Homo sapiens: one gene and its partners. The protein of the gene in region 1 interacts with the protein of each later gene in a pairwise test. Each region holds a gene or a part of one and is shown on either strand. Other genes may lie near its edges.

Region 1 (7,000 bases):
TAATCCCAGCACTTTGGGAGGCCAAGGCAAGTGGATCACCTGAAGTCAGGAGTTCAAGACCAGCCTGGCCAATATGGTGAAACCCCGTCTCTACTAAAAATACAAAATTAGCTGGGCATGGTGGCATAACTAGTGACCACTACACTACAGTATCAGTTCAGAAAGAAAGCAAGACCTATACTAGACAGGCAGCATCAGAAGGATGCTGGCAGGAGGTACCTACAGTAGTCATTATTATAGCAAATTTATTATATACCAGGTACTGTTTTGGATGTTTTACATAGGCCAACTAGCTTAATGCTCCTAACCAATTATTAGGTACTATTCCCATTTTACAGATGTGGAAGCATGGGCATAAAGAGATTAAGGAACTTGCCCACAGAGCTAGTAAATGGGAGAGCTGAAATTTGAATCCAGATGACCTAGCTTCAAAGTCTGCTTCTCTAGCTAGCAAATGTGCTTTACTGCCTCTCTTAGTGAGCAAGATGGAGATGGACTGATGGCAATCCAGTTAGGTGAAATAAAAACCTGACTTACTACTGAAAGAATCAGGCAGACTGAAGAGAGGTCTGTACTTATATGCCATGTATCTCTATCCCTAACTTTGTTCCTTTCAGTACCTTAACGTCAGGGTGCTGATGGCATGGTGATAAAATTTGTGAGTGACCCAAGCCTGGGAGGAATTTGTGGAATTAACTGATTGATTTAATCAGAGTCCAGATAAATCCTGACTGACTGGAATGGTGAATCATCTTTTACAAAGAAGAGGCACAATCCTATACTCAGCTGCAGAAAAATCAGTGATAAAGTGTGGAATGAGGGAGAAGTGATACAAGGACAGTGTTCGTTGATGGGAAACTCAGTGTGAATCAACAGTATAATGTGGGTGCCAGTATAGCTAGTGTCATGGGTTCTGCAGTTTGTCTCCAAAATGAGCAAGTTGGTAGCCCTGCTCATTTTCGGGCTGATGAGGCTTTATCTGGAGTTTTGTTTGATTCCGAGCACCAAAAAATGAAGAAATTTGAAATCATACTACATGAGGAATTATACTATTTGAGGAATACTGTATGAGGACTGGCTTATTCTAAATCTTTATATTTACAGTTTCTAGTAGACTGTACATATGGTGAATACACAGACCTCCATCTAGCAATACCAAATGGAATAATAGTTATGGTGCTATCGCATCATAATTTACATAACCAGACCCCTTTAGTTGAGCATTTGGATTATTTAGCCTTGTTCATTATTTTGTAAGTATTCAGTATGGTATATGCTTTTTTTAAGTGAAGATAATAAAATGTATTTAGAAAATAGCAACTTAGGCTGGGTGCAGTGGCTCACACCTGTAATCCCAGCACTTTGGGAGGCCAAGGTGGGAGGATCACTTGAGACCAGAAGTTCAAGACTAGCCTGGGCAACATAGTGAAGCCCCATCTCTACAAAAAATTTAAAATTTAGCCAGGCATAGATGCATGTACCTGTAGTCCCAGCTGCTCAGGAGACTGAGGTGAGAGGATTGTCTGAGCCCAGGTGTGTGTGGTTACTGTGAGCTATGATAGCACCACTGCACTCCAGCCTGGGTGGCAGCCAGACCCTGTCTCTTAAAAAAGAAAAAAGCAACTTAAATCCCTAAAATAGTGTAAAATAATTGAAGATAAAAGAAGTTGGAGTCATTAATTTTAGAGAAAACCTTAAAAATTTAGTTTTTTGAAATACAGCAAATCTAGCTAGGCATGGTGGTGTGTGCCTGTAGTCCTAGCTACTCAGGAGGCTGAGGCAGGAGGATCACTTGAGCCCAGGAGTTGGAGGCTGCAGCCAACTATGATCATGCCACTGCACTCCAGCATGGGTGACAGAGTGAGACCCCATCTCTTAAAAAAAAAATAATTAAAAAAATAAAAAAATAGCAAATCTGAATTAACTGGACTTCTTAATGAACTCTATGCGTGGAGTGTGTGTATGTGTGTTTTGAGAAAGACTATCAGAAAATATAGTCGACCTTCCATATCTATGGATTCTGCATCTAAGAATTCAACCAACTGTGGATTGAAATTATTTGGGAAAAAAAAAGACAAATAACAACATTAAAAAATGATACAGATAAAAAGAATGCAGGATGACAGCTACTTACATAGCATTTACATTGTATTAGGTATTATAAATAATGTAAAGATTATCTAAAGTATATGGGAGGATCTGCATAGGTTATATACAAATACTATGCCATTTTATATCAAGCGACTTGAGCATCCTTAGATATTGGTGTCTGTGAGGGGTTCTACAACCAGTCCCCCATGTATGCAAAACTAGGTACATACCACAGTCCATTTTTAGAAAGATTGATTAGTAACTAAAGGATGACTGTACACAATTCATCAGTTCCAGGCAGCTATAAGAAAACAATCTAGCCGGACACAGTGGCTCACACCTGTAATCCCAGCACTTTGGGGAAGCTAAGGCGGGCAGATCGTGAGGTCAGGAGTTTGACACCAGCCTGACCAACATGGTGAAACCCTGTCTCTACTAAAAATACAAAAATTAGCCCGGTGTAGGTGCCTGTAATCCCAGCTACTCAGGAGGCTGAGGCAGGAGAATCACTTGAACCCAGGAGGCAGAGGTTGCAGTGAGCCGAGATCATGCCATTGCACTCCAGCCTGGGTGACAGAGCGAGACTCTGTCTCAAAAACCAAACAAACAAAAAACAACAGAAAAACAATCTATGAGCGCTGCAGTTCAACAGAAGGTAAGTGCAAATGGAGGCTAGCAGAGAAAAAGGGGTAAACAGGAAAATGAGGGAGAGTGAGAGGTAGTGAAGAATATTTGAGACTAAGATAAATGATGGGGGAAGAAAAGTGAACGAAGAGAAATAAAATCAATCGTGCTTGTAAGTTTAACATCAGGAAGTTATACAAAGTAGAAAGTCTTTGGGGTCTGTTTTGAGTCTAGACAGATCTAGTCCTATTTCCTATACATTGTCCACATATGTAGAAATCACTGAATCTAATTCCTCATTTTCATGGTGAGGGAATGGATACCCCGAGAGGATAAATGACTAAATGCTCTTTGTTACTGTCCTTCTCATAGAGTTATTGCTCAGAAACATTGCAGAGTTCTGGATTATAAAGTAGCAACGATCATTATGCATACACAAATGTATTTAAGAAATATCCTCACACTGAGGTTGAAACAGGTTTATGCTGCTTATACATTTAGTTGTTATTATAATAGAAGATAAAATTATCCAGAACCCCCCTTTTTTTTTTAGACAGAGTCTTGCTCTGTCGCCCAGGCTGGAGTACAGTGGTACGATCTTGGCTTACTGCAGCCTCCGCCTCCCTAGTTCAAGCAATTCTCCTGCCTCAGCCTTCCCTGTATTTAGGATTACAGGCGCATGCCACGACGCCTGACTAAGTTTTGTATTTTTAGTAGAGATGGGGTTTCACCATGTTGGCCAGGCCGGTCTCGAACTCCTAACCTCGTGATCCAACCCCCTCGGCCTCCCAAAGTGCTGGGATTACAGGCGTGAGCCACTGTTTCCGGCCAGTTATCCAGAACTGTTTAGTTAACTAGCATTCAAGTTTATGAAGATTTTTGTGTAGATGTAATGCTTGCTTCTGCCAAGGAATAAGAATGTTGTAATCCACCATCTTTTATTCTGGCTTTTAGGCAGCTGTTGAGGTAAACAAACTAAGTTTAATGCTCGAAGATAGTGTATTCCTCAGAACTAACACATTTGATTTTCCATAGGTTTATTTTCCTTTACCTGTTCTAATTTAACTTTTTGTAAAATGCCACAGTCCATTTTTAGAAAGATTAAGGGATATTTCATTATTATAGATAAGTTTCTAGGTTTCTTTCAAACTTGATATACCTAATATAAAAGTTCAGATTATTTTTCCTCTTTATTTTTCACTTTTTATTCAGCCAACTGTGATTTCTAGAATTTTGATTTTCAGCTTCTGAACCCCAGAATTTCTGAAGATGATTAATGACCTCCGACTATACTAAAAGTTTTGAAAAATTTTTTTAAAGTAAAGAATCCTGTTGTAATGTGAACGGTGTCTCCCTAATTTATGTATTTTCAGTTTGCATTTTCATGAAGTGCTCAAAATGGGACATGTGAAATTCTGAGAGTAGTAGTAAGAAACATGGGAGAGTGGTAGGTAGATTGCCTTCCTGACCATGTGACAGAGTAAAAACACGTTTCATACATTTTTTTTTTTTTTTGAGACGGAGTTTCGCTCTTGTTGTCCAGGCTGGAGTGCAATGGCATCATCTCGGCTCACCACAACCTCCACCTCCTGGGTTCAAGCGATTCTCCTACCTCAGCATCCTGAACTAGCTGGGATTACAGGCATGCGCCACCACACCCAGCTAATTTTGTGTTTTTAGTAGAGACAGGGTTTCTGCATGTTGGTCGGGCTGGTCTTGAACTCCTGACCTCAGGTGATCCGCCCGCCTTGACCTCCCAAAGCGCCGAGATTACAGGCGTGAGCCACTGCACCCAGCCACATCTCATGCATTCTTTTGCTCGCTCATTTATTGTCACCATATGCCTTTGTTTCTATATATTCAAGCTAAATCAAGGTGCTATTAGAATCTCGGGAAGCTGCCGCTGACCACAGTCAGAACTTGCAGTTTCTTTAGTTAGAATTGCCATAGGACCACTGCTCAAGACTTCCAGATCTAACCTAGCCATATCCAACTCATCATTAGAATATTTAAATCATGAATGTTGAACAACCAATATTTTAACAATTTATTGCATAGAGCTACTAATAATATTAAATAAAACTATGGAAAAAAAGGACATTTTACTTTGTGCCAGGTATGCTTCTAAGCATAGTTCTACATCTTAACTTCTAGTCCCTGTCTACATATTTTCCCTTATGTGTAGCCTTAGTTATACTATTTTGTATTCTTTTCTGTTTTAAAATATATATAAACTCTTTCCTGTTCTTTTACATAAGATAAATAAACTTAATTTTTTAGCTGCATAGTATTTTCTCATGTTAATGTATTGTAGTTTACTAAGTCATAACTTTATTTTTATTTAATTTGTGAACAATAAAAGAAATAAAACTCTTATGATACAGGTTAATCTCTTTCTCACTCATTCTTAATCTTTGCTTTACCAACCTACCCTTAAAGATAGCTGGAAGTGGAAATGCCTCTCCAGTGGTTTGTCCATTGGGATTGGGCTTCTGTTTATCTTGAGCTGCCAACATTTAGCCCAGCCGCTGGGGGTGGTCTGTTATCCTTTGTTTCCCCAGGCCATTTAAGCTTATCCAGGAAATGCTTTAGTTTGCCTTTTTTTTTTCCTGTTAACCATTTTATTGAGATATGATTTACATACTACATAGTTCATCCATTTAAAGTGTACTCATTTGCCCTCTTTTGTTGTTGTTGTTGTTGTTATTGAGGCAGAGTCTCGTTCTGTCCCCCAGGCTGGGGTGCAGCAGTGTGATCATCGCTCACTGTAACCTTGAACTCCTAGACTCAGGCAATCCTCCTGCCTCACCCTCCTGAGCAGCTGGGGCTGTCAGCATGTACCACCATGCCCAGCTAATGTTTTAAAATTTTTTTGTGGAGGTGGCGATCTTGCTATATTGCCCCGGCCACTCTTGAATTCCTGGCCTCAAGTGATCCTCCCGCCTTGCCCTCCCAAAGCACTAGGATTACAGACATAAGCCACCGTGCCTGGCCTCATTTCCCTTTTTAATCTGCTTTCTGAGCTTCCTGTTCTCTTTCAATGAATATCATAGAGAATGAAAACTGATTAGTATAGTATCTTGCAGTAGAAAACATGACTTTCGCTGGGCGCGGTGGCTCATGCCTATAATCCCAGCACTTTGGGAGGCTGAGGCGGGTGGATCGCGAGGTCAGGAGATTGAGACCATCCTGGCTAACACGGTGAAACCCTGTCTCTACTAAAAATATAAAAAAAAATTAGCTGGGTGTGGTGGTGGGGGCGCCTGTAGTCCCAGCTACTCGGGAGGCTGAGGCAGGAGAATGGCGTGAACCCGGGAGGCGGAGCTTGCAGTGAGCCAAGATCGCGCCACCACACTCCAGCCTGGGCGACAGGGCGAGACTCCGTCTCAAAAAAAAAAAAAAAAAAAGAAAAAGAAAAAGAAAACATGACTTTCCTCTCCAAATAGTAAAGCAAACTTTTCCATTTTATTTTCTACTGTTTTTCTTCTCCTGCCTATTTAATGGCATTATTTGGCATTTGCTGTAACTTGAGTTTCATCAAATATGTGTTTACTTCTCTGGTTTTATGCTAACAGCAACACCATGAGATAGTGGTTTAAGGCCATGAGAAGTATTTTTTTTAATTGTTTTCTTTGAAAGCCCACATTGTTTCCTTTGAACAGAATACTTTGAACAAAATTTAAATCGTGTTCAGAAGAGAGGTTTAGAGGTTTTTTCCTTCATAAATTCAACACATGTTTACAAAATATCCATTTCATGTTTCTCTTTAGTGACTGAATCTATTTTGTGTTGCTGTTTCAGAATGCCATAGACTGGGCAATTAATAAACAGTAGAGGTTTTTTTGGCTCCTACTTCTGGAGCCTGGGAAGTCCAAGATGGAGGGGCTACATCTGATGAGGGGCTTCTTGCTGCGTCATAAAATGGCAGAAGGAATCACACAGTGAGGCAGCACTTGTGACAGAGAGATAGGAAAGGGAGTTGAACTCATCCACTCATCGTGTTATCAGGAACCCTCTCCTGTGATAATAGCATTAACCCACTCCTGAAGGCAGAGCCCTCCTCTTGACCTAATCACCATTTTTTTTTTCTTTTGAGACAGAATCTTGCTCTGTCACCCAGGCTGGAGTGCAGTGGTACAATCTCAGCTCACTTAAACCTCCACCTTCCAGGCTCAAACAGTTCTCCTGCCTCAGCCTCCCAAGTATCTGGGACTTCAGGTGCATGCCACTGTGCCCGGCTAATTTTTATATTTTTAGTAGAGGCGGGGTTTTGCCATGTTGGTCA
Region 2 (7,037 bases), on another chromosome or scaffold:
CCCCTGAAATCCAAACTGATGTTCCGAATGATCAGGGAAAGGTACAAACGTTTATGGTTTACAGACAAAACCCATAAGGTTTAGCTTTCAGAGAATCTCATTTTATGAAGCAAATTAGGGAAGGGAATCTACTCACCAAGTCCTGTTTCAGCTGATTGAGTGGAACCTGTGGTCATGTGGTACAAGTCCTGGTCTCAATGATGCTCCTTATCTGGCTGCAGAAAGGCCAACTGAGGCAACCATAGCCCAGAAGACTGGTACTCCTGAGAGGCAGATGAAGTGGTGGTCTTTGATATCGAGCCTGGGATGCCCTGGGCACATGAGGTATTTCCAAAGGCATGGGAGTTTTAGGGAATAAATTCCCAGATTGTCAGACTCCATAAGTACCGTTTACAATGGATTACCTTTTATAACCATCCCAATCCTACCTGACAAAAGAGGTGGGCAGATTACGAGGTCAGGAAATTGAGACCATCCTGGCTAACACTGTGAGACCCCATCTCTACTAAATAAATACAAAAAATTAGCCGGGTCTGGTGGCGTGCACCTGTAGTCCCAGCTACTTGGGAGCCTGAGGCAGGATAATCGCTTGAACCCGGGAGGTGGAGGTTGCAGTGAGCCAAGATTGCGCCACTGCTCTCCAGCCTGGTGACAAAGCGAGACTGTCTCAAAAAAAAAAAAAAAAAGAAAGAAATACATCCCTTTCTTCCCTTCCAAATCGAGCAAGGATGCCTGCCCTGGAAGTGTATAAACCCGGGGAAGGGAGACAGAAAAGGATAGTTTTAAGTATTGGTGTTGGGGACGTGTTCTTTAGCCAAGGCAGCATGAACCCATGGCAGCACTTCCCAACCTTCCTGACATGGGCGTTTCTGTGAACTCCAGTGTGATGGAGAAATGGCATTGGCTCAGGTGTGCAGCTAGATATGTTACAGAGCAGGGTGACAGGCAGGGGTGATGAGTTTTGTTTTAACAACCTGTCCCTTCAACCCTCATGGTACTGACAAAGATCACATGGCTCTCGGGGGAGATTCCTGCGAGGGGAAGCAAGGAGAGCATCCTTACATATTATTGATCCAGGCAGCAGATTTGCAGCAAAGCTCTGTGCTTTATTCATCTGTTAAAATAGTTAAAATAGTCAAAACATAGGAAAAGGATTCTGGGAAGTCAGAATCGGCTTCAGAGCACACCCCTCCTGCACTTGCCCGGTTCTCAGACTTGGGAATGGGACTGGGTGGGTGGGTACTCTCGGGTGTTCCGCGGGTTTGGGTCTTACTTGTACACTTTGCTTGATTTCAAGGAGGTGCAGGAGAACAGCTCTGTGATACCATTTAACTTGTTGACATTACTTTTATTTGAAGGAACGTATATTAGAGGTAAGTTGGTGCATGCTATTTTCTGTAACATTTATTTTGAGTCATAGGAGAAAGATTTTCAGTTACTTTTATCCAAGATTATTAGACACTGTAAAATTTCATATTTAGGCACTTGTCCTACAACATTTTAAAAATGAATTTCAAATACATACGTGTGTATTTGTAATGCAGACAAGTATAAGGCAGTCAGTTACATGCTTTCAAGAGTAAAATGAATGACATTTCATTTCCCCCATTTGTGGGAGTAAAAGAATGACAATATGAAATTGATGATCAAAAGAAAGAGCATAAAAGATTTAGAGCTCACGTGTTTTTTAAACTAAAGGTTTGGGTATCAAATTACCGTAATATTTGGATTCTCTTGGCTACATTGGAAACAGTTCTATAACAATTTTATTTTTAAATGTAAAGTTTTTGTTTGTTGTTGTTTTTAAGACGGGGTCTCGCTCTGTCGCCCAGGCTGGAGTGCAGTGGTGCGATCTCGGCTCACTGCAACCTTCACCTCCCAGGTTCAAGTGATTCTCCTGCCTCAGCCTCCCAAGTAGCTGGGACTACAAACACACACCACCACTTCCAGCTAATTTTTGTATATTTAGTAGAGATGGGGTTTCACTATGTTGGCCAAGCTCGCTTCGAACTCCTGACCTCAGGTGATCCACTCACCTTGGTCTCCCAAAGTGCTGGGTGGGATACAGGCGTGAGCTACTGTGCCCAGCCTTTAAATGTAAACTTTTTAATTGTATTACAACTGCATCAGAAGTTGTATACTTTGCAACTATTCAAATTTATACTGAAAACGTTTTTGAAGTTCAACCTAAAATTATGACAGGAGATAGTTTTAGAAAATATTTTGGGGAACAGAGGCATATTCTATTTTTTTTTTTTGAGACAGAGTCTTGCTCTGTTGCCCAGACTGGGGTGCAGTGGCGTGATCTCAGCTGACTGCATCCTCTGCCTGCCAGGTTCAAGCAATTCTTTGCCTCAGCCTCCTGAGTAGTTGGGATTACAGGTGCCCGCCACCATGCCTGGCTAATTTTTTTGTATTTTTAGTAGAGACAAGTTTTACCATCTTGGCCAGGGTGGTATTGAACTCCTGACCTCATGATCTACCTGCCTCAGCCTCCCAAAGTGCTGAGATTACAGGCGTGAGCCCCGGGGCCCGGCCTGGAGGGATATTCTTGAAGCGCCTTGAGCAGGGAGGCAGCGTTTGTCTTTATCTGACCTTGGCTTCTTTGGGTCACTCTGTTTCTCTTTCCGTGAATAAAAAGCCAGTGAGCACACACTGTGTCCCAGGCACTCTTCTACGCTCTGGGGACATCACCATGAACAACTAGTCAGAGTCCCCACCTCCAGGGGCCTTCCGTTCTGGTGGTGGGTTTGGTTCCATGGTTGAATGCACCCAGCTGCTTATCTGTTCAATAGGCATCTGCTTTATTTTAAGCTTACTTTGCAAAGAAGGAAGATGGTTGTTTCCGAAGTGGACATCGCAAAAGCTGATCCAGCTGCTGCATCCCACCCTCTATTACTGAATGGAGATGCTACTGTGGCCCAGAAAAATCCAGGCTCGGTAAGTTGCTCTCTGAAAGTCGCTATCCATGTGACATGAGCCATGCCCATTCGAGGCTGCCCTTTTCTACAGCGGTGCTACTGCTGCCCAGATATGCCTGCTCTCTCGCCTCTCCTGTGCCAGGACGCAGATCCTGACCCTCTACTTGCCAGCTGACAACCATGTATAGACTCGTTGCCTTAGCTCACCGTGGGTGGAGGTGCTGCTGGGGTTGGGGACACTGGCTGAGCTGTCGATGGGTTCAGCTCATCTATACTAGAAGGAACTGGCCCAGGCCCTGGGTTCAAGGAGCACTAGGTTTGTTTTTCCTGCCCACATCATGATTCAGTCTCAAGCTACAAACCCTGGGGCATCATTAAGATATTATCTTTGTAGGGAAGCCACGTGGTGAATTTTTTGCCCAGAATCAAGACATATTTTTGGTGGGAACCAATCATGGCCCCTGGAATCAGTCCAACCTCAGTTGGTCCCGACGCTGACACTCTCAGCTGTGTGATTGTGGGTAGTTATTCCTCCTGTTATAAGCCTGGTTTTCCATATCTAAAATGAGAATAATGGTCTTTGCTTTATATGGCTGAGAGCAAAGTGCAGGGAGTGTCCAGGTACTCAGAGTGCTCAGTTTCTTATTACCGTGGATCACTGGTCTGTTTCAGGCTGGCTCTGTTTTCCTAGGCAATGTTAAACAATTTTTCAAACAATATTCAAAAAACATTGAAGCGTTTAGAAAAATACAGAGGACCACCACCTTTCCACCACCCTGATACCACCGTTTACATTTTTCTGCATTTCCGTCCCTGGTGCGTCTCTTGTCTGGCTGTAAGAGATGTAATTATGTCAGGGTATGGGGCAGGAGGAACTCTCACCCACTCATACTTGCGTGCTTTGGAAGCAGCTTGGCCTTTTCCAGTCAAGGAGAACAGAGTGTGTCTCGTGATCTGGCAGTTCCACTTCTGGGGATAGACTGTGGTTCTCAAAGTGTGGCCCCCAGCCCAGCCCATTAGCATCACCTGGGAAGTTGACTGAAATGCAAATGACCAGCCCCTCCTCCCACTCTTAGACCTGGTGAATTGGACACTCTGGGGCAGGGCCCACCCCCTGTGCTTTACCAGGCTCTCCAGGTGATTCTGCTGTGTGCTGGAGTTTGAGGACCATGTGTAAACCCTTGCACATCCCCCTGGGAGCCACATGCATAGCAGCACTGTTTATAACAGCAAAACTCAGACCCTGTCTACGTGCCTGTCATGGTGGAATGGATACTGGGAGTGTGGTATGTTCATGTAGCAGAATTCTATACAGTAGTAAAGAGGAATGAACTAGAGTTCCAGGTATCAAAATGGCTGCATCAAATGAACAACGTTGAACCAAAGAATCAAGTTACAGGAAATATACAAAATGATTCCACTTACGTAAAATTCCCCAACAGGCAGCAATAGGCAATATACCATTGTGGGAAAAACATATAGGTGGCAAAACTATAAAGAAAAGCAAGGATGTGATGATTGCAAGCCTCAGGATAGAGGGACCCTCTGGAGGTGAAGGAGTTGACCCAGGGAGGTGTGTGCAATGTCCTAAGTACTGGGAGTGTTTGTGTTCTTAACCCAAGTGGTTGGTACATGCATATTTGCTTTATTATGTTTGACACACTTTTGTAAATAGATAGTATAAATAAATGAAAACAAACAAAAAGTTATAAGGTGAACTAAGACCGAGGCTACCAACTGTATTCATGCATTTGGTAAGGCTGTGGTTCTTTCTCAGTCAGGGCCCATTTTGCTCCCTGGAACTTGTGGCCAGGTCTAGAGACATCTTGGTTGTCACAACTCAGGGTGAATAGTGAATAGAGGCCAGGTATTTGGCTAAACCTCCTACAATGTGTAGGGTAGCCCCTGCAACAAACAATCTTCTAACCCCAAATATGAATAGCTTCTTGTCCTGTTATAAAGAAGCTATTCTAGTAAAAACGTCTGTCTATGATGAAGCATGCACAAAAATAGTCATTAGAAAGAGGTAAAAGACAAAATGATTTTCTCATATTTTCTTCCTGAACCTCAATCAGCCCACTTTAGGAAAATTGCACCCAGCTGCTGGTAGGTAGGCAGGACCGAGTGTGAAGTCTGCTGCTTTCTCTGTTTTTATGCAAGTACTTCACTATTTTGATTACTTTAGTTTTATAGTAATTATGGAAATTAGGTAATGCTAGTCCTCTGACTTTGTTCTTCTTTTTCAAAGTCATTTTGACTAAGAATATTTAGATCATTTCTATTTAATGTGACTGGTAATATAATTAGATTTGAGAATATCATCTTGCTATTTGTTTTCTATTTGTCCCGTCTGTTCTTCGTTCCCCCTTTCGTCTTTTTCTGCCTTCTCTTGGATTATTTTTTATGATTCCATCATGTCTCCTTTGTTGTCTTATTAAGTATAACTCTTGGTGTTTTTAGTATATATCTTTAACTTAATAAGTCAACCTTCAAGTGATAGTCTGTCACTTCATGTATAGTGCGAGAACCTTAGAATAGTGTATTTCCATCTCTCTGCTCTGAGCCTTCATACTATTTCTATCATGCATCTTTTACATACATCATAAACCCCACAATACATTGTTATTATTGATGTTCAAACATTCAATTATCTTTTAAATAAAGATAGCAAAGGAATACAAAAAAGTGTAGTAGTTACCCCTTCTAGTATAGACTCCTTTGTATAGATCCAGATTTCCATTCAGTATCATTTTCCTTCTACCTAAAGAACTTCTTTAACATTTCCTGTAGTGCAGGTCTGCTGGTAATGAATTAGTTAAGCTTTTGAATGGCTAAAAAAGTCTTTGTTTTGCCTTCATTTTTAAAAGTTATTTTTGCTGGGTATAGAATTCTAGATTGATGGTGTTTTTCAGTACTTTAAAAATACTGCTTCACTGTCTTCTCGCTTGTTATTGCTTCTGATAAGATTGACAGCAGATTTCTCATTTGTGTCCCTCTGCTCACACTGTATCATTCTCTGGCTGCTCCTAACATTTTCTCTTTATTACTGGTTTTGAGCAATTTGACCCTCTTATGGCTTGATGATGTTTATGTTTGCTGTGCTTAATGTCTGTTGAGTTTCTGGGATCTTTGGGTTTATGGTTTTCATTAAGTTTGAGGGAATTGTATGTATTATTTCTTCAAATATTTTTTTCTGTCTCTCTTCCATTCTCTTTTGGGGATTCCAGTAACCTGTGTATTAGACTTATTGAAGTTGGCCGTCTTTAATGGAGTGTATTGGTTCATTCTCACACTGCTATAAAGAACTGCCTGAAACTAGGTAATTTATAAAGAAAAGAGGTTTAATTGACTCACAGTCCACATGGCTGGGGAGGCCTCAGGAAACTTACAATCATGGAGGAAGGCATCTCTTCACAAGGTGGCAGGAGAGAGAATGACTGAAGGAGGAACTTGCCAAACACTTATAAAACCATCAGACCTCATGAAAACTCACTATCATGAGAACAGCATGGGGGAAACCTCCCCCACAATCCAATTACCTCCACCTGGTCTCTCCCTTGACACGTAGGGATTATGGGGATTACAATTCGAGATGAGATTTGGGTAGGGACACAGAACCAAACCATATCATGAGCATGATTTGCAGGCCATGAAGAATTCTCCATTTTTGTTTCCTCCAGGTGGCTGAGAACAACCTGTGCAGCCAGTATGAGGAGAAGGTGCGCCCCTGCATCGACCTCATTGACTCCCTGCGGGCTCTAGGTGTGGAGCAGGACCTGGCCCTGCCAGCCATCGCCGTCATCGGGGACCAGAGCTCGGGCAAGAGCTCCGTGTTGGAGGCACTGTCAGGAGTTGCCCTTCCCAGAGGCAGCGGTAAGAACTTACATTCTGTGTTAGTCTGCTCAGGCTGCCATAACAAAATACCACAGACAGGGTGGCTTATACAACAAAAGTTTATTTTCTCACAGTTCTGGAGACTGGAAGTCCAAAATCAGGGTTTAGCTTCTCCTGAGGCCTTTCTCCATGGCTTGCAGATGGCCACCTCCTCACCGCTCCCCCATGCGGCCTTCCTTCCACACACAAGCATCTCTGCTGTCTCTTCCCCTTCTTCATAAG
Region 3 (7,037 bases), on another chromosome or scaffold:
GTATAATTTGTTGAGTTGCAGATTTTGTGATATGTAGCTGTTCTCAATCTACTGCTATGTAAAAGCCCTTCTCATTGAACAGCAGATGTATTGTGTGTTGGGGAAGATGGACTCTAACTACAGTATGCATACTTTGGAAAATTAACTTATAAGTACATTTAGGGAAGATGGAAAGTTTATGGGGACATACATGGCATGACTAGAAATCAAAACTAGCTAGTGGACAGAAGGTGAGAGTACATAAAGGTGTTACCAATTTGTCTTTTTATGAAAACTCAAAATTCAATTTATATTTTCACTTTCTTGGGAGTTAGGTGTATTACGATTGTGATATAATTATATGCCACAATTATACCATTGTATAGCATAATAATGATGTGGTAAACCAAAATAAGAGAGTTGAGAAACGTATTTTTCTTAACGACTTGGGTGTTGAACCTGTCATAAGTGGTGCTTATTTATCTGAACATCAGCATTTCTTTCATTTTAGGATTCTGGATGGAGAACAGCCATTTGCCCAGATTATTGTCCTAACATGTATGAAGAAATGGAAACATTAGCCAGTGTACTTCAGTCAGATATTGGTCAAGACATGCGTGTTCATAACAGCACATTTCTATGGTTCATCCCTTTTGTCCAGTCCCTCATGGATCTTAAGGATTTGGGTGTGGCTTACATAGCACAGGTTGTTAATCATCTGTACTCTGAAGTCAAAGAAGTCCTCAACCAAACAGATGCTGTGTGTGACAAAGTCACTGAATTTTTTCTTCTAATTTTGGTATCAGTGATTGAACTGCATAGAAATAAAAAATGTTTGCATTTGCTGTGGGTAAGTTCCCAGCAATGGGTGGAAGCCGTCGTCAAATGTGCCAAGCTTCCTACCACTGCGTTTACACGGAGTTCTGAGAAATCATCTGGAAATTGCTCCAAAGGAACAGCAATGATATCTTCACTGTCATTGCATTCCATGCCATCTAACTCTGTACAACTTGCTTATGTGCAGCTGATTAGAAGTCTCCTTAAAGAAGGTTATCAGCTTGGGCAGCAGTCTCTTTGCAAGCGATTCTGGGATAAGCTCAACTTATTCCTTAGAGGAAATTTATCTCTAGGTTGGCAGTTGACTAGTCAGGAAACCCATGAGCTACAAAGTTGCTTAAAGCAAATTATTAGAAACATAAAATTCAAAGCACCTCCATGTAACACTTTTGTGGATCTGACTTCTGCATGTAAAATCTCTCCTGCATCTTATAATAAAGAAGAAAGTGAACAAATGGGGAAGACGTCTAGAAAAGATATGCATTGTTTGGAAGCTTCCAGCCCAACATTTTCTAAAGAACCAATGAAAGTGCAAGACAGTGTATTGATCAAAGCAGATAACACTATAGAAGGTGACAATAATGAGCAAAATTATATAAAGGATGTGAAACTAGAGGACCATCTCTTAGCTGGGTCATGCTTAAAGCAGAGTAGTAAAAACATTTTTACTGAAAGAGCTGAAGATCAAATTAAAATAAGTACAAGGAAGCAGAAGTCTGTAAAAGAGATCTCTTCATATACACCAAAGGACTGTACTTCAAGAAATGGTCCAGAAAGGGGATGTGACAGAGGAATAATAGTATCAACACGTTTGTTGACTGATTCTAGCACTGATGCTTTGGAAAAAGTGTCCACATCGAATGAAGATTTCTCTTTAAAGGATGATGCTCTTGCTAAAACCTCAAAACGAAAAACTAAGGTACAGAAAGATGAAATCTGTGCAAAGTTATCACATGTAATAAAGAAGCAACACAGGAAGAGTACTTTGGTCGATAATACTATCAATTTAGATGAAAATTTGACTGTATCTAACATTGAGAGTTTCTATTCAAGGAAAGATACAGGAGTTCAGAAAGGAGATGGTTTCATACACAATCTTTCTTTAGACCCTAGTGGTGTTCTGGATGATAAGAATGGAGAACAAAAATCTCAAAACAATGTATTGCCAAAAGAGAAACAATTAAAGAATGAAGAATTAGTTATTTTCTCTTTCCATGAAAACAATTGTAAAATACAGGAATTTCATGTTGATGGTAAAGAATTGATCCCTTTTACAGAAATGACCAATGCTTCAGAGAAGAAATCATCTCCCTTTAAAGATCTTATGACTGTACCTGAATCAAGAGATGAGGAGATGAGTAATAGTACCAGTGTGATTTATTCTAACTTGACAAGAGAACAGGCCCCTGACATCAGTCCTAAATCTGACACCTTAACGGATTCTCAGATAGACAGAGACCTTCACAAATTATCTTTACTAGCTCAAGCCAGTGTTATTACGTTCCCATCCGATTCACCTCAGAACTCATCGCAGCTGCAAAGGAAAGTAAAAGAAGATAAAAGATGTTTCACAGCTAACCAAAATAATGTTGGAGATACCTCCCGTGGACAGGTTATTATTATTTCAGATTCTGATGATGATGATGATGAAAGAATCCTGAGTCTTGAGAAACTCACTAAACAGGACAAAATATGCCTTGAGAGGGAACATCCAGAGCAGCACGTTTCAACAGTTAATAGTAAGGAGGAAAAGAATCCAGTAAAGGAAGAAAAGACAGAGACTCTTTTTCAGTTTGAGGAATCTGATTCTCAGTGTTTTGAGTTTGAAAGTTCATCTGAAGTGTTTTCAGTTTGGCAAGATCATCCAGACGATAATAATTCAGTTCAAGATGGTGAGAAAAAATGTTTGGCTCCTATAGCCAATACTACAAATGGTCAGGGTTGTACAGATTATGTATCTGAAGTTGTTAAAAAAGGAGCAGAGGGCATTGAAGAACACACAAGACCACGGAGTATTTCTGTTGAAGAATTTTGTGAAATTGAAGTAAAAAAGCCTAAGAGAAAACGATCTGAAAAACCAATGGCTGAAGATCCTGTGAGGCCTTCATCTTCTGTCAGAAATGAGGGCCAGTCTGATACTAATAAGAGAGATCTTGTGGGAAATGATTTTAAAAGTATTGATAGAAGGACTTCAACTCCCAATTCACGTATTCAGAGAGCCACTACGGTTTCACAAAAGAAGTCTTCAAAGCTTTGTACTTGTACAGAACCCATCAGGAAAGTTCCAGTTTCTAAGACCCCTAAGAAAACTCATTCAGATGCCAAAAAAGGACAGAATAGAAGTTCAAATTACCTAAGTTGTAGAACAACTCCTGCTATAGTGCCGCCAAAGAAATTTCGTCAGTGTCCTGAGCCAACTTCAACAGCTGAGAAACTTGGCCTGAAAAAGGGTCCTCGTAAGGCATATGAGTTGTCCCAGCGGTCTTTGGATTATGTAGCTCAATTACGTGATCATGGCAAAACTGTTGGAGTAGTTGATACCCGAAAAAAGACTAAATTAATTTCTCCTCAGAACCTGTCTGTCAGAAATAATAAGAAACTTCTGACTAGTCAAGAACTTCAGATGCAAAGGCAGATCAGACCCAAATCACAAAAAAATAGACGAAGACTTTCTGATTGTGAAAGTACAGATGTTAAAAGAGCAGGGTCACATACAGCACAGAATTCTGACATATTTGTACCAGAATCTGATAGGTCAGATTATAATTGTACAGGAGGAACTGAGGTACTTGCCAACAGTAACAGAAAACAGTTAATAAAATGCATGCCTTCTGAACCAGAAACCATAAAAGCAAAACATGGGTCTCCAGCAACTGATGATGCTTGCCCTTTGAACCAGTGTGATTCTGTAGTGTTAAATGGAACAGTACCAACAAATGAAGTAATTGTCTCCACTTCAGAAGACCCTCTGGGTGGAGGTGATCCAACAGCACGTCATATAGAGATGGCAGCTTTGAAAGAAGGAGAGCCTGACTCCAGCAGTGATGCAGAGGAAGATAACTTATTTTTAACCCAAAATGATCCTGAAGATATGGATTTATGTTCACAAATGGAGAATGACAATTATAAACTCATTGAACTAATTCATGGAAAAGATACAGTTGAGGTTGAAGAAGATTCTGTAAGTCGGCCTCAGTTGGAATCTTTGAGTGGCACAAAGTGTAAGTACAAAGATTGTCTTGAAACCACAAAAAACCAGGGTGAATACTGCCCAAAACACTCTGAAGTGAAAGCAGCAGATGAAGATGTATTTCGTAAACCTGGCTTGCCTCCTCCTGCATCTAAACCTTTGAGACCTACCACTAAGATTTTTAGCTCAAAGAGTACTTCACGAATTGCTGGTCTTTCTAAATCTTTGGAAACTTCTTCAGCACTTTCACCGTCTCTAAAAAATAAGTCAAAGGGGATACAGTCGATTTTGAAAGTACCACAGCCAGTTCCCCTCATAGCTCAGAAGCCAGTTGGTGAAATGAAGAATTCGTGCAATGTTCTTCATCCTCAGTCTCCGAATAATTCCAACAGGCAAGGTTGCAAAGTTCCATTTGGTGAAAGCAAATATTTTCCATCTTCCTCTCCAGTAAACATTCTTTTGTCATCACAGTCTGTCTCTGACACCTTCGTTAAAGAGGTCTTAAAATGGAAATATGAAATGTTTTTGAACTTTGGTCAGTGTGGGCCCCCTGCAAGTCTTTGTCAGTCCATCTCAAGACCTGTGCCTGTCAGATTTCACAATTATGGAGATTATTTTAATGTTTTTTTCCCTTTGATGGTATTGAATACTTTTGAAACAGTAAGTATGTGTTTCATTTGTATGCCTCTCCAAACTTTTCAAGTTACCTCTTTACCTTGCTGAGTGAAAATGAGAGTATAGTTCAAAAAATCAGCCAGGCGTGGTTGCGGGCACCTGTAATCCCAGCTACTCGGGAGGCTGAGGCAGAGAATTGCTTAAACCCAGGAGGCGGAGGTTGCAGTGAGCCGAGGTCGCGCCACTGCACTCCAACCTGGGCGGCAGAGTGAGACTCTGTCTCAAAAGAAAAAACAAAAAAAAGTATAGTTAAATTAAAATTGACCGTTTCGATTTAGATACTGGTTTTAGATTTCATGTTGAACAGACATTTGTGCCAGCCACTGTTTTAGATACTGGCAATACAGAGGAAACACTTTTTTTTTTTTTTTTTTTTAGGTGGAGTTTTGCTCTTGCTGCCCAGGCTGGAGTGCAATGGTGCGATCTTTGCTCACTGCAACCTTCTGCCTCCCAGGTTCAAGTGATTCTCCTGCCTCAGCCTCCCAAGTAGCTGAGATTACAGGCCTGCGCCACCAGGCCTCACTAATTTTGTATTTTTAGTAGAGAAGGGGTTTCACCATGTTGGTCAGGCTGGTCTTGAACTTCTGATTCTGACCTCAGGTGATCCACCAGCCTCGGCCTCCCAAAGTGCTGGGATTACGGGCATGAGCCACTGTGCCTGGCTGGAAACTCTGCTCCTTGGAGCTGATAGACACAACTCAGGGTGCTAATATACCAAGTGCAGAGGTAACACAGAAGGAAATGTTTATTGACGCACGGGTAAAGGAAGACTTCTCAGAGGAGATAGTTTCCCATGTGCATTTGTTTTGTTTTTAAGTAAGAGACCTCTGCTGTAGTTTTCTTGAGGAGGTGGCAAAGGGTGAATTACATTGAACACAAAGTAATGAATCCTAAATTTCCCTACACGTCAGACTTCCCAGTTTCTTTCTTTCTTTTTTCTTTTTTCTTTTTTTTGAGACGAGTCTCGCTCTGTCGCCCAGGCTGGAGTGCAGTGGTGCAATCTCGGCTCACTGCAAGCTCTGCCTCCCGGGTTCAGGCTGTTCTCCTGCCTCAGCCTCCCGAGTAGCTGAGACTATAGGCTCTCGCCACCACGGCCGGCTAATTTTTTGTATTTTTAGTAGAGATGGGGTTTCACCATGTTAGCCAGGATGGTCTCAATCTCCTGACCTTGTGATCTGCCCGCCTTGGCCTCCCAAAGTGCTGGGATTACAGGCGTGAGCCACTGCGTCTGGCCGCCAGTTTCTTACTCATCACAGCAGCTGCTCTGTGTAACAGCCTCCCCAACCCCAGCACATCCTATTCTGGTTCTTCTCTCCTCCTTACTCAAGTAGAGTTGACAAACGATAAGATTCCCGTTAAAATTTGAGAAAAACATCAAATAATTCTTTAGTGTAAGCATTCAACTGCGTTTAGAAGGATTTTTGTGTGTGTGTTTTCAAGGCAGGTAAGAAGTGGGAGCAAATTTTTAGTTAATCCTCAAAAGAAACTTTCGTGTATACAGTAATACTCTTAAAACCAACAATGTTGAGGTAAATAGTCATGGTTCATTAGCTTGATAGATATTTGAGTGCCTAGTATGTGCCAAGTGCTCTTACAAGCATGGGAGATAAAGTGGTGAACAAGACAGGTGTGAGGTCTCTGCTCTCTGGAAGTGACCATTTGGGATTGAGATAAGGACTCTAGTATGATCTAGAACAAAGGGGACAGGGCACTTTCTGGAGAGATCAGATAACCTCTATGAGCAGATGATATTTACACTGAGACCCAAGTGACTAGGAGTTAACTGTGGGAAGTATGTTACAGGCAGAGTGGAGTGCAAAGACAGTCTGGTAACAAGATTGGAGTGTTGGGGAAGGAAGTGTAATGTACAAAGGGACAAGTCTACTACAAAAGAAGAGAAGTGAGTTGTTAACACTGTACATGGCAAGATAAATGGCTTTTATAAAGCTTGAGTGAACGTATCTTCATCAATGTACTTTATGTTAAATCTTTTGATCAATTCGTACCTCAAATTTTAGCCATTTTTGAGAGTTGCTTTATTATTTTTTTTTCCTAAGGTACTTTTGTTTTAGCAGGAGTTGCTTTATTTTCGCTGGAAAGCACTAAATTGCTTAGAAGCCATTCATAACCCTATGAAGGGTAGACACTTACTTTCATTTCCTGAGTTAAAAGATATTTATTAAGATTTATTTCCTTCAGGACATTTTTGTAGTCTCAGCTTTTTAAAAACAGAATGAGCACAAGTTCCATTTGTACATATACAGAGTTTAAAATAGTCAAAGATTTCTATCTGGCCCATTATAAAGAACATCAGGCACCCCTCATCCCCTCAAGTAACTATTTTCTATTCTTAATG

Evidence for each region. The genes of interacting proteins can lie anywhere in the genome.
Region 2: the proteins of TDG (region 1) and MX1 interact in a two-hybrid assay, tested with the Homo sapiens proteins (one study listed by BioGRID).
Region 3: the proteins of TDG (region 1) and SETX interact in a two-hybrid assay, tested with the Homo sapiens proteins (one study listed by BioGRID and IntAct).

Annotation. Positions count from the first base shown.
Region 1 is NC_000012.12:103,968,872-103,975,871, forward strand, and holds part of TDG (G/T mismatch-specific thymine DNA glycosylase), read left to right. Parts: intron 1-3,488; exon of another isoform or gene 3,489-4,151; coding exon of another isoform or gene 4,152-4,162; intron 4,163-7,000. UniProt on the Homo sapiens protein: DNA glycosylase that plays a key role in active DNA demethylation: specifically recognizes and binds 5-formylcytosine (5fC) and 5-carboxylcytosine (5caC) in the context of CpG sites and mediates their excision through base-excision repair (BER) to install an unmethylated cytosine.
Region 2 is NC_000021.9:41,429,236-41,436,272, forward strand, and holds part of MX1 (interferon-induced GTP-binding protein Mx1), read left to right. Parts: intron 1-1,297; 5' UTR 1,298-1,373; intron 1,374-2,795; exon of another isoform or gene 2,796-2,814; 5' UTR 2,815-2,835; coding exon 2,836-2,940; intron 2,941-6,601; coding exon 6,602-6,794; intron 6,795-7,037.
Region 3 is NC_000009.12:132,323,953-132,330,989, reverse strand, and holds part of SETX (probable helicase senataxin), read left to right. Parts: intron 1-490; coding exon 491-4,666; intron 4,667-7,037. UniProt on the Homo sapiens protein: Probable RNA/DNA helicase involved in diverse aspects of RNA metabolism and genomic integrity.